Regions from separate parts of the Homo sapiens genome. Here region 1 is linked to region 2. A link means that fine-mapping ties the variant in region 2 to the expression of a gene that starts in the linked region. Tissue or cell type: whole blood. Region 2 holds a variant in brackets; the other region holds the start of a gene. All regions are shown on one strand. Distances are from middle to middle. Region 1 holds the start of ANKUB1 (ankyrin repeat and ubiquitin domain containing 1). Region 2 overlaps PFN2 (profilin 2).

Region 1 (2,930 bases), 170 kb before region 2:
AAATTAAAGTAGGAGTAGTCGCTGTACCTGTGACTGACACCAATAGAAGTCACAGATGTTTTCATATCACATTATAGTTGTTGCAAATATTTCAAAATATTATTTCTACTGATCTGTATTTTGAAAATAATAGTTATTAGATGAGCTGCTAGAACTTGTTAGTTAATGTGTTAATTAGGAAGTCCACATGTCACTATATCATACATTTGCTTTTTAATATTGGAAAATGTATTTCAATATAACAAATTTCATTTCTATCATATCTGTTTTATTTTATGCATTTAAAGACATTCTGAGAAGCAGTCTATAGACATCACCAGACTTCCAAAGGGGTTAATAAAACATAGAGGTTAAGATCCCTTGTGTTACAAGATTTAGATTTCAATCATCATAATAATCTACTGAATATCATGTAACTATGGTTCAGTAAATGCCGCTTAGCAAATAGGAATGACCATCTCCAAGTTAAATATTTGATGATCAGAAACTAAATATTTTGCTTAATTTTTTATTTTAGAGTGAACATTTATATGAAATTTATAAGGAAGATACTATACCCAAGTTATTTCTTATTCTGGCTCTGTGATCCTAGGTAAGATAGTCAACCTCTCAGAGCTTCAGTTTTTTCTGAATGCAAAATGAAGCCATAGCTCACAAGTTCTCTAAAGTCCTCTCTGCTTCCAAAATCTTCTGTTCTTTGTAGTTGTTTGCTCACCAAATAAGACATTTATCTGATGACTGGCATGTCCCACGTATATAGCCTGAAGTTGGTGTCTTGCTTTGGTCCTTTTATGAAGAATTGCAATAATATTATCTGGCCTATGCACAACCCACACATTCCCTAAAAAGAAGTCAGACTTTTTTTTTTTCTTGATAATTGACTGGCTCTTTTTGCTTTCTTGTCCAACACTACCAGAGTTACTATCTTCTTATAAATCTATTGTGTAAGCAAATAATAGTATTTTCAAATAGTTTTCGTTCCCTGTTTGCTGAAAATGTACCCAATAGCATCTCTACCCTTTGTACATTTTTAAATGCACTGCATTGTTAAAATTAATATACATTTTGGTGGTTTGGGAACGAAGTACATACCTTTATCATCAGCTTGACAACCTCCACAGTTTCATCTGCTGAAACATCAAACGGTTCAAAAGATCCTTCAAAGGCGATGAAAATCCTCATTGTACAATTACCTTTTCAAACAAAAAATATCCAACTTTTTCAAAGATTCTCCTGGATGGCTAGAAAAATTCCGGTTCACAATTAAGGACAAAAATGATAGCCAGAGGCAGCTGTCACTGTCTAGCCTCAAAGGTAAGTTGTAGAATGTGAAGAGCCTAGTCCCACAGTGCCACAGTATCAGGCAACACAGACACCAGCTACTTTGGAGGAAATATTTATCTGCGGAAGGCAGTAGTCAATAGCCACCTTATTCCTATATTACGGAAACCAGCAAACTTGACAATGGTTGAGGCAAGTATGGACAAGCTTCAAGCATGTGATACAAAAATGCTACTCATAAATTACACTTTTGTGATGTGGTCCCCATCAACTGACTCCTGAATTCTTATTTACATAAGTACAGCTGATTGAAGAACCCTTAAAAATAGATATTTGATTGGGATGCACTAGCACAGGGTGAAGCAAAACAAGAGTTGATTTTATTGAATGTGATAATCCTGAAAGTTCTCTGTAAATAACTCTTGAGCTGAAACATTCTGGTTTCCATAACAACTTTGTGTACTTGTTCTCTGGCAGTATTTATAATCCTGCCACAGGGTACAGAACAATACCCACTTGCACCAGGGAGATGAATGTGTAGGCAAATCATTCTGTGGCTTTCTTTTCTGATTTCTGTGTCATAGAATCTGCTGAGTAGCAACACAATATAGTTGGTATTTTCTTTAATCCTTGCCTTTATGTTATTTAGAACAATTTCCCATTGTTATCTCCTTCAACCCCCACTTAGTGTTGGTGGAAAATATTTCAAACCCGCTCAATAAGCGAGCAAATAAGCTGAACATGGTGGCACATGCCTGCTATCCCACCTACTCAGGAGGCTGAGATGGGAGGATAGTTTGAGCCCAGAAGTTTGGGGGTGTAATACGTTGTGATTGCACCTGCGAATAGCCACTGCTTTGCAGCCCAGGGAACATAGCAAGAATCTGTCTCTTCAACATAATAGAAGAAAATACTCCATTTATAAAAGGAAAGATAATGTATTAAGAATAAACTTGGCTGGGTGCGGTGGCTCACGCCTGTAATCCCAGCACTTTGGGAGGCCAAGTTGGGCAGATCACTTGAGGTCAGGAGTTCGAGACCAGCCTGGCCAACATGGTGAAACCTTGTCTCTACTAAAAATACAAAAATTAGCCAGGTGTGGTGGCACATGCCTGTAATCCCAGCTACTCTGGTGGCTGAGGCACAAGAATCACTTGAACCCTGGAGGCAGAGGTTGCAGTGAGCTGAGATCACACCACTGCACTCCAGCCTGGGCAACAGAGTGAGACTCTGTCTCAAAAAAAAAAAAAAAAAAAAAGAAAGAAAGAAAGAGAAAGAAAGAAAGAAAGAAAGAAAGAAAGAAAGAAAGAAAGAAAGAAAGATCTTAACAAGAAATGTGTAAGAGCCGTATAACATAAACATAAAATACAATCAATAAACATAAAAAAGGGCTGAACAAGTGGCAGGTATATCATAACCTTGGATGGAAGGTTCAAAATTATTTAAAGTCATCAATTCTTCCTAAATTTATCTATAAATTAATATTATCTCAATAAAAATACAAGCAAGATTTTTTTTGTTTATGTAAGCAAGATGGTTCTAAAATTCATGTAGAGAAAACAGGCAAGGATAGCTGGAAAAACTCTGGAAAAGAAGAGTAATGAGGGGGCAGTCACCTACTAGATGTTAGAATTTAATATAAGGCTACA
Region 2 (2,918 bases):
TAATGATTGAGGTCAGAGAAATCACATCACCTTAGGACTTTATACAAGGTAACTGACCATTCACATGCAGTTAGGTAATATCCCAAAAAGTTTAGACTGCTGCCAAAATTATTCCAAAAATAAACAGTGTACATTTTGGTACCCTGTTGTAAATTATGGTATATCGAGGGAAAATTTCACTTTCCAAATTGCCTTTTAAAAAATAATGTTCATAATCAGGAAAAAAATAAATAGGTATTTCTACTTTGGAAAATAAACGGTTGAATTCAACATCAGCTATCTGATACCTCATCCCTCTTCCCCTTTTTTATAAAAAATTAAAGAACCACAGGCCTGAGAAACAGGACATCAAAGGTTACCACGGTAGTTAAGCAGAGTTTGGAATTTGACATAATTGTATGGCCCTAACCTTTTTAAACCTGCTTGGTCATTTGCATAATTTTCATTTAACCTAAGAGGGTGTGAGGAGAAAACATTGAGCTCAGTATCTGGCACATCAATGCGCAATAAGTAATAGCCTTCAAAATAATTATTATTAAATAAAAACAAACCTAAAACAATATTTTAAAATAGGAAAAGGGAAAAAAGTAAAAAGTCACGGTAATGGTTAAGTATGTATTAGATGTTATATTCCCTCAGTCTTTAATCCAAAGTTTAGAATAAGGACCTGGTCCCTTTATGTTAGGAGTTTTATGGAAAAAAAAATTTTTTTTTGAAATTCCAAATAATTACTAACTAACTGTAAAAAAAAATCTACGAAGTGTCTTATTTAGCAGCACTGGCTAGGGCTGTTACTAGGTTCTGTGAATGTTCACTTGAAATGTTCTATAATTTCATGGTATAGCTTTTCAAACAGGACAGTAGGTGCAATTAAAATCCAATTTCTATTTAAAAAACATTTAAAACTTTCTTGATTACAAAAGTAATATTAACACTAGAAATCAAAATATAGTCACCTGGAAACTTTCACTCCAGAGATAAATTTATCTTAATATATTGCCTTCAGAAATACATATGTAAAATACATGTATATTAATACTGTATGTATGTGCACTGTCATGTGACATGTTTATATCCTTATATTATTAACATTCATTGGTAAACATTCTTATGTCATTCTTCAATGACTATTTTGTCCTATGGACTTAAAATCATTTATTCAAACCATACCCCTTAAAAAGCTGAACTTTGTAGATATTTTCCAAGTTTGGATGTCATAAGTAATGCAGCATGATGGACATTCTGGTATACAAATTTGTATAGCTTCATTTCCATATGCTAAATTCCTAGAACTAAGTACAAAGCAAAGTACGCATGTATGTATTTCCCTAAGTATTTTTCTAATGAAATTGTGGGTAGAAAGCCAATGAATAGTTTCATTATATACTATTTTAGTGATACACTCACCCTTTACCACCTTCTCTACCCACAACCTCCTCTCTGAACACACACATACACACTGCCCCTTCACCTACTTACAGATTAATTAAGAGTTTCAGAATTTTGGTCACTGCCTTCTATAATTGGTTACCCTAATAGTTCTTTACATGTAAAGTGTGAATGTGTATTATTGTAAAATCTCAAATCATCACAACTCAACCACCAAATTTTCATTTGCCCCGTCTTTTGGCCTTAACAGGTCAAGAAACTGATACCAGGTTTTTATTATAGTTTTACAATTTCTAGGTTATGTCCAACTACCAA[A/G]ATAGCCCCAAATCCTTTATCTCCCATATTTGTACATCCCTGTGTATGTACAACCATATTCACAACCAGTGCCTGACAACTAGTCAAAGAAAAAAAAACTTTCATTATGCATAGTATATTTTAAGACAGGTTAATTCCTATTCCCTAACCCATTTTTTCTCAAAAGGTAGCATATACACCACTTAAAATGAATCAGACTGACTCAGTGATTGTTTCTGAAAAGGGATTCCTGGGCTTATGGACTCTCCATCTCCAGAGTGGAACCCCAGAGTCCATAGTCTGCCTTATAACCAGCTCCCCAGTTTTACTGAGACCTACTAACTTTTGAGCACCCCTGGCTCTAAGCGTCCGCTTGACAGTTGTTGGTAATAATGATTTATGTAAATAGCCCTAAATTTACATATTTATCAAACTTCAATATATATCAGGGATTTTATGGCCTCTGGATTTAAACCTATTACACAGCCATGGTCAACATGTCACTACAAAGCCAAAAAATGCAAAAGCATCCCAATTATCTTATATGCTGCCTAAGGAATGTCTTCTGCTCTTATGTGGGAGGGCCCCAGCTGGCTGACTTCAGCCTGCCAACACAGCTTCCAAATCTAAAGTCATATGACATTTCAATACAGAAAAATCCACAATAGTGCAGAAACCCTTCTTGGTACTCCCTTTACTATTAGATTTCACATCTAGAAACCAGCAAGAAGAGGAAAATACTTATTTTCTAGCAGATAAGTCAGTTGCTTCTCACATACTCCTGAAGATGAGCCTGAAATGACTAAAAGCTATGTGTAACAGATCAGAGTCCATTAAAAAGAAATTCCCAGGCACTAATTTTATCTGTAATATTACTTGAAGTAGGCCATCACCTAATATTGCTGAAGTTTTATGCTTGCAGCAGACTTTGGCCTATTCTGTGTATTCCCACTTTGTCAAAAATCAACTTTTAACAGTTTATATAAACAATGTATATAAACAACAGGAGCCTAGAGTATTTGGTTGGAATAAATTTATTTCATCTGTCTGTAAACAAGGTGTTTAATAGTTATGGCATTTTTTTAAATGCATATTAAATCAGATGAGTTAGACTGTATCCCAGATGTAACAAAGTGCAGGGAAAGAAATGGACAAATCAGCAACAAGATTTGTTTTTAAATCTGTACATTATCCACAAGGCCCAAACAATAGAAGCAAATACTAGAATGTCCCTA

What was found. PIP is the estimated chance that this variant, and not a neighbour inherited with it, causes the effect.
Region 1: ANKUB1 starts here. The variant in region 2 is the best candidate, but not a certain one, in a credible set for the expression of ANKUB1 in whole blood (TOPMed, PIP 0.74).

Annotation. Positions count from the first base shown.
Region 1 is chr3:149,791,185-149,794,114 of GRCh38, forward strand. ANKUB1 (ankyrin repeat and ubiquitin domain containing 1) reads right to left here and starts at 1,370. Exons shown (of 6, transcript NM_001144960.3): 1 at 1,093-1,370. The coding sequence starts at 1,182. RefSeq lists an enhancer at 1-256.
Region 2 is chr3:149,962,203-149,965,120 of GRCh38, forward strand. It overlaps PFN2 (profilin 2), which reads right to left. Exons shown (of 3, transcript NM_053024.4): 3 at 2,702-2,918. Among named protein-coding and RNA genes, the nearest start is that of PFN2, 7.2 kb to the right of the region's middle. The variant A/G (reference allele first, on the strand shown) is at 1,705.